Linked DNA regions of Homo sapiens. The protein of the gene in region 1 interacts with the protein of each later gene in a pairwise test. Each region holds a gene or a part of one and is shown on either strand. Other genes may lie near its edges.

Region 1 (3,169 bases):
TCCCACCTACTCAGGAGGCTGAAACAAGAGAATTGCTTGAACCTGGGAGGCGGAGGTTGCAGTGAGCCGAGATCATGCCACTGCACTCCAGCCTGGGCGACAATAGCGAGACTCTGTCTCAAAAAAAAAAAAAAAGAGATGGGGACAGCTGCTGGCATCTGGGGCCTGTGACCTCCTTGTTGTCAGGGCCTGTCCTGTGCACCGGAGAATGCTAAGGAGCATCTCTGGGCTCTATCCAGGAGACGTCAGTAGCATCCTCACCCCTCTAGAAGTGACAACCAGAAGTATCTCCAGAGGCCGCACTGTGCCTGGAGTCTCAGCTACTTGGGAGGCTGAGGTGGGAGGATCCCTTGAGCCCAGGAGGTCAAGGCTGCAGTGAGCCAAGATCACCCCACTGCACTCCAGCCTGGGCGACAGGGCAAGACCCCATCTTTTTTTTTTTTTTTTAAGATGGAGTTTCGCTCTTGTTGCCCAGACTGAAGTGCAATGGCGCGATTACAGCTCACTGCAACCTTTGCCTCCCGGGTTCCAGAGATTCTCTTGCCTCAGTCCCCAGAGTAACTGGGATTACAGGCTCCTGCCAACAGGCCCGGCTAATTTTTGTATTTTTAGTACACCATCTTGGCCAGGCTGGTCTCGAACTCCTGACTTCATGATCCATCCATCTCAGCCTCCCAAAGTGCTGGGATTACAGGTATGAGCCACTGCGCCTGGCCCAACCCCATCTCTTAAGAAAAAAATATAAAAATGTTCTCTCAGCCAGGTGTGGTGATTCATGCCTGTAATCTCAGCTCTTTGGGAGGCCAAGGTGGGAAGATTGCTTGAGCCCAGGAGTTCTAGACCAGCCTGGACAATATAGTGAGAACCCATCTCTATTTAATAAAGAGAGAGACACACACACACACAGACAGACAGATAGAAAGAAAGAGTGACAGAAAGAAAGAAAGTGAGAGAAGGAAAGAAAGAAAAATGTTTTCTCATGTAGGATGTGGTCAGAAAAAAATAAAAGAATAAACAATGTTTTCAAACTTAAAAAAAAATTCCTGGCCGGGCGTGGTTGCTCACGCCTGTAATCCCACCACTTTGGGAGGCCAAGATGAGCAGATCACCTGAGGTTGGGAGTTCTAGACCAGCCTGGCCAACATGGTGAAATCCCATCTCCACTAAAAATACAAAAATTAGCCAGGCGTGGTGGCAGGCACCAGTAATCCCAGCTACTCAGGAGGCTGAGGCAGAAGAATCTCTTGAGCCCGGGAGGCGGAGGTTGCAGAGAGCCGATACCACGCCACCGCGCTCCAGCCTGAGCAACAGAAAAAAACTGTCTCAAAAAAAAAAAAAAAAAAAAAAAATTCCTTGTTAGCGTTCTCCTTGACTAAATTTTTTGCCCGCTAGGGGCAGGGACAGTGGCAGGGGCCCAGGGAGAACTCAGAACTCAGGGGGTATTGTGAGGATCCCCCAACATCCCATGTAACAGGAAACAGTGTTTGCTGTGCAGGCGCAGGTTCAAGACCAGCTTCCTGACCCCCATTCTCAACTAAACATAGCCCCTGAGCCTTGATTTTGTAGAAACTCCAGACCCCCAAGAAGGGATTTGTCTGTGTTATTGTCTGCTGTAGGCGCAACCACCCATATGCAGTAGGTGCTCAGTAAGTGTATCCTGGGCGTGACACACAGCAGGTGCTCAATAGATGCTTTTTGTGTCTGGTATAGAGTAGGTGCTCAATAAATGTTGGGTGGCTAAATGAACTCAAGCAGTGAGTGCCCCTGCCCCCATGTCTGAGGGCCACTGTTCTCTGATGATGGGTGATGTACCTCCGGCTACCCCCACCAACCCTGCCCATGCCTGAGAGAGGACAGGCATCCCAAGAAGAAATTGGGGCCCACTCACCGATGTACTCCTCCACCTGGACATAGCCATCTTTGTTTCTGTCCAGGTCCTCCAGGGTTTCCTGGAGGAGAAAGGGGCATTGAGGCTGGGGGCCGATGACCCTGGCTCCTGGGGGAGGCTGGACCCCTGGGGTAAGAGTGAGAGGTTCTCTTGGAAATTTAGCTCCGGGCAGCTGTGGGAGGCAGGCAGTAGAGCAGTCTCAACAGGTGGCATGTGGGAAATTTGCGGGCTTTCTGGGATGTTATCATCAAACAGGCACCACCTGCATTTACGGGGCCAGAGCCCAGAGGCCCTAATGTCCAGCAGTGCACAGGTTTGTTGCTCACAAGGGGAGCTGTCCTGGGTCCCTAATAACTTGCTCAAGCCCCAGCAAACACCCTCCAAGGGGAGAAGCTCCTTTATGTTTAGCAGAGCCTAGAACCTACCTCTGCTTTATGTGTGAACATGGTGCACTTTGGGGCTTCTTCTGACACACTGGACACCTCCGCTCCTTGTTTTTGTGCCCTTCTGGAGCAAAACGACTTTTGTTCCCCAATTTATATCCAAACTCATTCACTATAAGACTGTGGGCTGGGCACGGTGGCTCACACCTGTAATCCCAGCACTTTGGGAGGCCGAGGCGGGAGGATCGATTGAGCCCAGGATTTTGAGACTAGCCTGGGCAACATGGCGAGACCCTGTCTCTACACAAAATTTAAAAATTAGCCAGGCATGGCCGGGCGTGGTGGCTCACAACTGTAATCCCAGCACTTTGGAAGGCCGAGGTGGGTGGATCACGAGGTCAGGAGATCGAGACCATCCTGGCTAACACAGTGAAACCCCGTCTCTACTAAAAAAAAAAAAAAAAAAATTAGCCGGGCATGGCGGCATGCGCCTGTAGTCCCAGCCACTCGGGAGGCTGAGGCAGAAGAATGGAGTGAACCCGGGAGGCAGAGCTTGCAGTGAGCCGAGATCGCATCACTGCACTCCAGCATGGGCGACAGAGCGAGACTCCGTCTGAAAAAAAAAAAAAAAAAAACATTAGCCAGACATGGTGGCTTGTGCCTGGTGGCCTCAGCTTCTCAGAAGGCGGAGGTGGGAGGATTACTTGAGCCCAAGAGTTTGAGGTTGCAGTGAGCTGAGATTGAGCCACTGCCCTCCGGTCTGGGTAACAGAGTTAGGCCCTGTCTCAAAAACTAAAAAAAAAAAAGAGGAAGGAAAGAAAAAAAAAGCCTTCTTCTATAGAACAAAGCACATTTTGGGGCCAGGCACGGTGGCTCATGCCTGTAATCCCAGCACTTT
Region 2 (3,604 bases), on another chromosome or scaffold:
CCAAGCCGAGTTCAGAGAACGGCTCCACAGTCTTGCCAGACCACCCAGGCCCTGAGTCCCTGGCATCCAGTGATGGATCACCAACCTCACTATGGCCCAAGAACATCCAACTCTGGTCTTGTGCAGGGCTTTCAAAAGATGATCTCGTATCGCTTTTAGAAGACATTTTCTCTGCAGAGAGACCTTTTCTTTCATTTAAGGAGGCTGGCTGACATGTGTCTGGGAAGCTTGCTAACTGAGTTCCCTGCAGCCCTGTTTCTTTGGAACCTACATACAATTCTAATTCAGCTATGCTTTCTCTTTCTTCACAGGTCTCTGGCTTTGAGTGTGAATTTTCTTCACGGTTTACAAGTATGTAATCCATGTGTAGTGCATGACGATCTTCATTCTTCTCTGTACATCTTTCTTCCTTGTATTCTGATTTTATCTGCTCAGGCTCTTTGGTAGGAATTGTTTTTTCTTCTTCCAATTCTGATATTTCCTTGCTGGCACCTAGAAGTGGAAGTTGAAAGTGAGAAGAGGAGAAAAAGGTTTAATTAACACATTGTGTGATTTGTGATCCTTGCAAATGATCATCTAAAAGAGGTAATTTAATATTTTTTATATATTTTATTTATTTATTCATTCATTCATTTGAGACAGAGTCCCGCTCTGTCACCCAGGATAGAGTGCAATGGTGTGATCTCGGCTCACTGCAACCTCCACCTCCTGGTTTCAAGCTATTCTTCTGCCTCAGCCTCCCGAGTAGCTGGGACTACAGGCACCTGCCCCCACGCCCAGCTAATTTTTGTATTTTTAGTAGACATGGGGTTTCACCATGCTGCCCAGGCTGGTCTCGAACACCTGACATCAGGTGATCCCCCCTCCTTGGCCTCCCAAAGTGCTGAGATTACAGGCGTGAGCCACCGCGCCCAGCTAGAAAATATTTTTATTTTGTAGAGTCATTCGATTTTCTCGTGCACTATCAGGAATAGGTATTACATATGCACTAGATTTTACTGCTGTTATAATACAGGACTTAGTGAGGCATGCCTTGAAAATGTAGTTAGTTTTCTCTCTACCCTCATTGGTAGGAAGAGTGTGTCTTACAAATATGCACTAGTTTAATCAACGCAGCAGTTTCTTGGAAGTGGAAGAATGGAATGTTTCTTACCATTTGGTGGTCCTATGTCTCCACCTGCTGGTAAATCAGAATTATCTGTTTCTACTTCCCAGTCAACGTTTGATGGAGACAAAATGTTGGAGCCTGCTCCTACCGGCAAATAAACGGACTCAGGGTCTTCACGAATATGCAGCACAGCCAGCTGGGATCCAGGCAGTCTGTTTTTGGTCTCAGCCTGGTTTCCCTCACTTCTTCGATCAGGAAGTGCAGAAAGCACTATCTCTGCTGCTCTGCATCCCAGAGATTCATCCTCTGGAGACCCAGCTTCCTCTATTGTTTCAGCACTCTGGGCAGGTTCTGTGAGATAAGACAAATCAAAGGGAGGTGTGTACGGTGCCAGCGACTGCTTCAGAGAATCTTCCTCCAAAGGAGGGTCACCACCATACAGGAAGTGTTCAGGCTCTCTCAGTAAATCTTCATCGATATTCTGGCCCATTACATCATATTCAAAATCACCCCACGAGGCTTCAGATGAGCAGATATCTTGCTTCCCTAGGTCCCCATCAACTGGCGTTTCCGGATGGCCTTCGGATAATGTCAGTTTACTCATGTCATCTATTGTTCCCGTGGATGTGTTGAGACCTGAGGCATCGCTGAAACTGTGGTCAAAGGCAGCTTCGCTTATATCCAGACAAGTGTCTGAGGCTAGCAAAGCATCAGGAACCAAGGCAGGATTCTCTGTGGATAAATGTGGATCACCATCAAACAAAGCTCTTGCACCAGGCTGACTTTCAGGAGAAAAGCTGTCTGATATCCAAGAACCGTCACCTTCTGGAGTTGGCTCTTGGTGAGTTACAAAAATGCTAGTTGCCACATTTTCAATCCTTGGGATTCTTCTGTCAACTGGTTCCAAAATTGGTGCCATATCTGGGCTGGCTCCTTTTTCTGATACTTGTAAACCTGTACTGTTGTCACCGTTTATTTCAGAAGGTTCAGGTGAACCTTTATGAGAGGCGGGCTGAGAGGAGCCCTTTATGTCTGCTTGATAGCCAATTGGAGGCAGCACAGTTGCGTTTTCAGAATCGAGTTCTGCATTGGATGGGACAAACTCCCGTCCAGGCTCATAAATGGGTTCTTCATCTATCTCTGGCTCAGTGAGACAAAGCTCACTGGATTCCACTTCAGGTCCCATGCAAGCACTGAGGTGCTTCTCAGTCTCTTGCTTTGCTTCAGAATCGTGACATATATCAGGGCTGTCGGAAGCCTGAGAATTGCTGTCATGTTCGCAGTGCGTCAGGATATCAGGATTCTCACCATCTGCTTTCAAACTGAAGGGCTTCTTAGCATCTATCCACAAGTCAGGCGCGGCAGAGGCCAGCTGCCCACCCTCTTGAAAGTTGCCATGTAAAATATCTGGCACAAAGGTACCTCGGGAGTCCTCACTTGGGGTAGAGCCATCCCATTCAGAGCCTGGCTTCATTATCAGTTGGGTGGGAGAACTGACAGCAGGAAAATTTTCTGTGGCAATGCTTGAATTTGTCATCTCACCTAGGTATGATTTTTCTTGTTCCCACTGATTTGTTTCTTGACCTTCATTAGTTGAAACATTAGATGTAACACAACTATTTTCCTCTGCGTGAGTAAAGGCTGTGTCCGGATGATCACAGACTGGCAGCATGGTGTCCTGACACTGCTCTTGGGTAGGTGTTTCAGGAGTCAGCTCATCACCAGCAGCAGACACAAAGGTTTGCTCTCTTGAGTCCTTTTCTTTAATTTGGTCTAATTTTACAAGCTGGCTGAACTTGTCAGCATCTGGGTCTGGCTGCCTTGGTTGAATGTTCCAGAGTTGCTCATGGGAGTTCTTCCCATTACCTTCCAGAAAGGGTGACTGATGGTTGTCACTAAAAGGATTAGTATAGTGTGTTTCCACGGGCTCAATATCACCCTGAACTGGTACTCCCCAGGGACTGGCATTTTGGTGTACTGAAGAATTTATCTCCAACACACCACTGGAGTCAGACAGCTCCCTTTCAAATGGACTTTCAATTAGTCTCCCTTCCTGGGGTGAGGCCTTCCACCACTCAGTGCTATCAGCTGAGAAGCCCAGCATTTCCAGTTGAGAATTATCTTCGTTCTTTGGGAACGAAGCTTTGGGAGATATTTGCCATGCAACATCTCCTGTTGTCCCTGTTTCTGGAGAAGATCTCTTCTCCTTCTCCACTGCTGTAATCTGCATTTCAGTCTCCGTTAATGGTGAGAAAGTCCAGGGATCAGGGCTGCTTTGTTGATTGTCACAGAATGGGTTTGACTTATTCTCATTCTCTGCTGGCTCTGAGCTGTCTAGGTAGTCATAAATATTTTCAGACTTAGGATCAGCTGTGACCAAGAACTTATTAGATTCATTCAATGAATCCCAAGCTCTGGATTCATCCTCAGCAACGTGGCAGTTGGCCACCTGGATCTCTTCCTCTATTGACTCTTCACCACCGACACTGTCATCAT

Evidence for each region. Proteins that work in one complex are often made in the same cells at the same time.
Region 2: the proteins of RCN3 (region 1) and PRUNE2 interact in a two-hybrid assay, tested with the Homo sapiens proteins (one large-scale study listed by BioGRID and IntAct).

What each region holds. Positions count from the first base shown.
Region 1 is NC_000019.10:49,537,899-49,541,067, reverse strand, and holds part of RCN3 (reticulocalbin-3 precursor), read right to left. Parts: intron 2,061-3,169; coding exon of another isoform or gene 1,950-2,060; coding exon 1,889-1,949; intron 1-1,888. UniProt on the Homo sapiens protein: Probable molecular chaperone assisting protein biosynthesis and transport in the endoplasmic reticulum.
Region 2 is NC_000009.12:76,703,608-76,707,211, forward strand, and holds part of PRUNE2 (protein prune homolog 2), read right to left. Parts: coding exon 1,154-3,604; intron 493-1,153; coding exon 1-492. UniProt on the Homo sapiens protein: May play an important role in regulating differentiation, survival and aggressiveness of the tumor cells.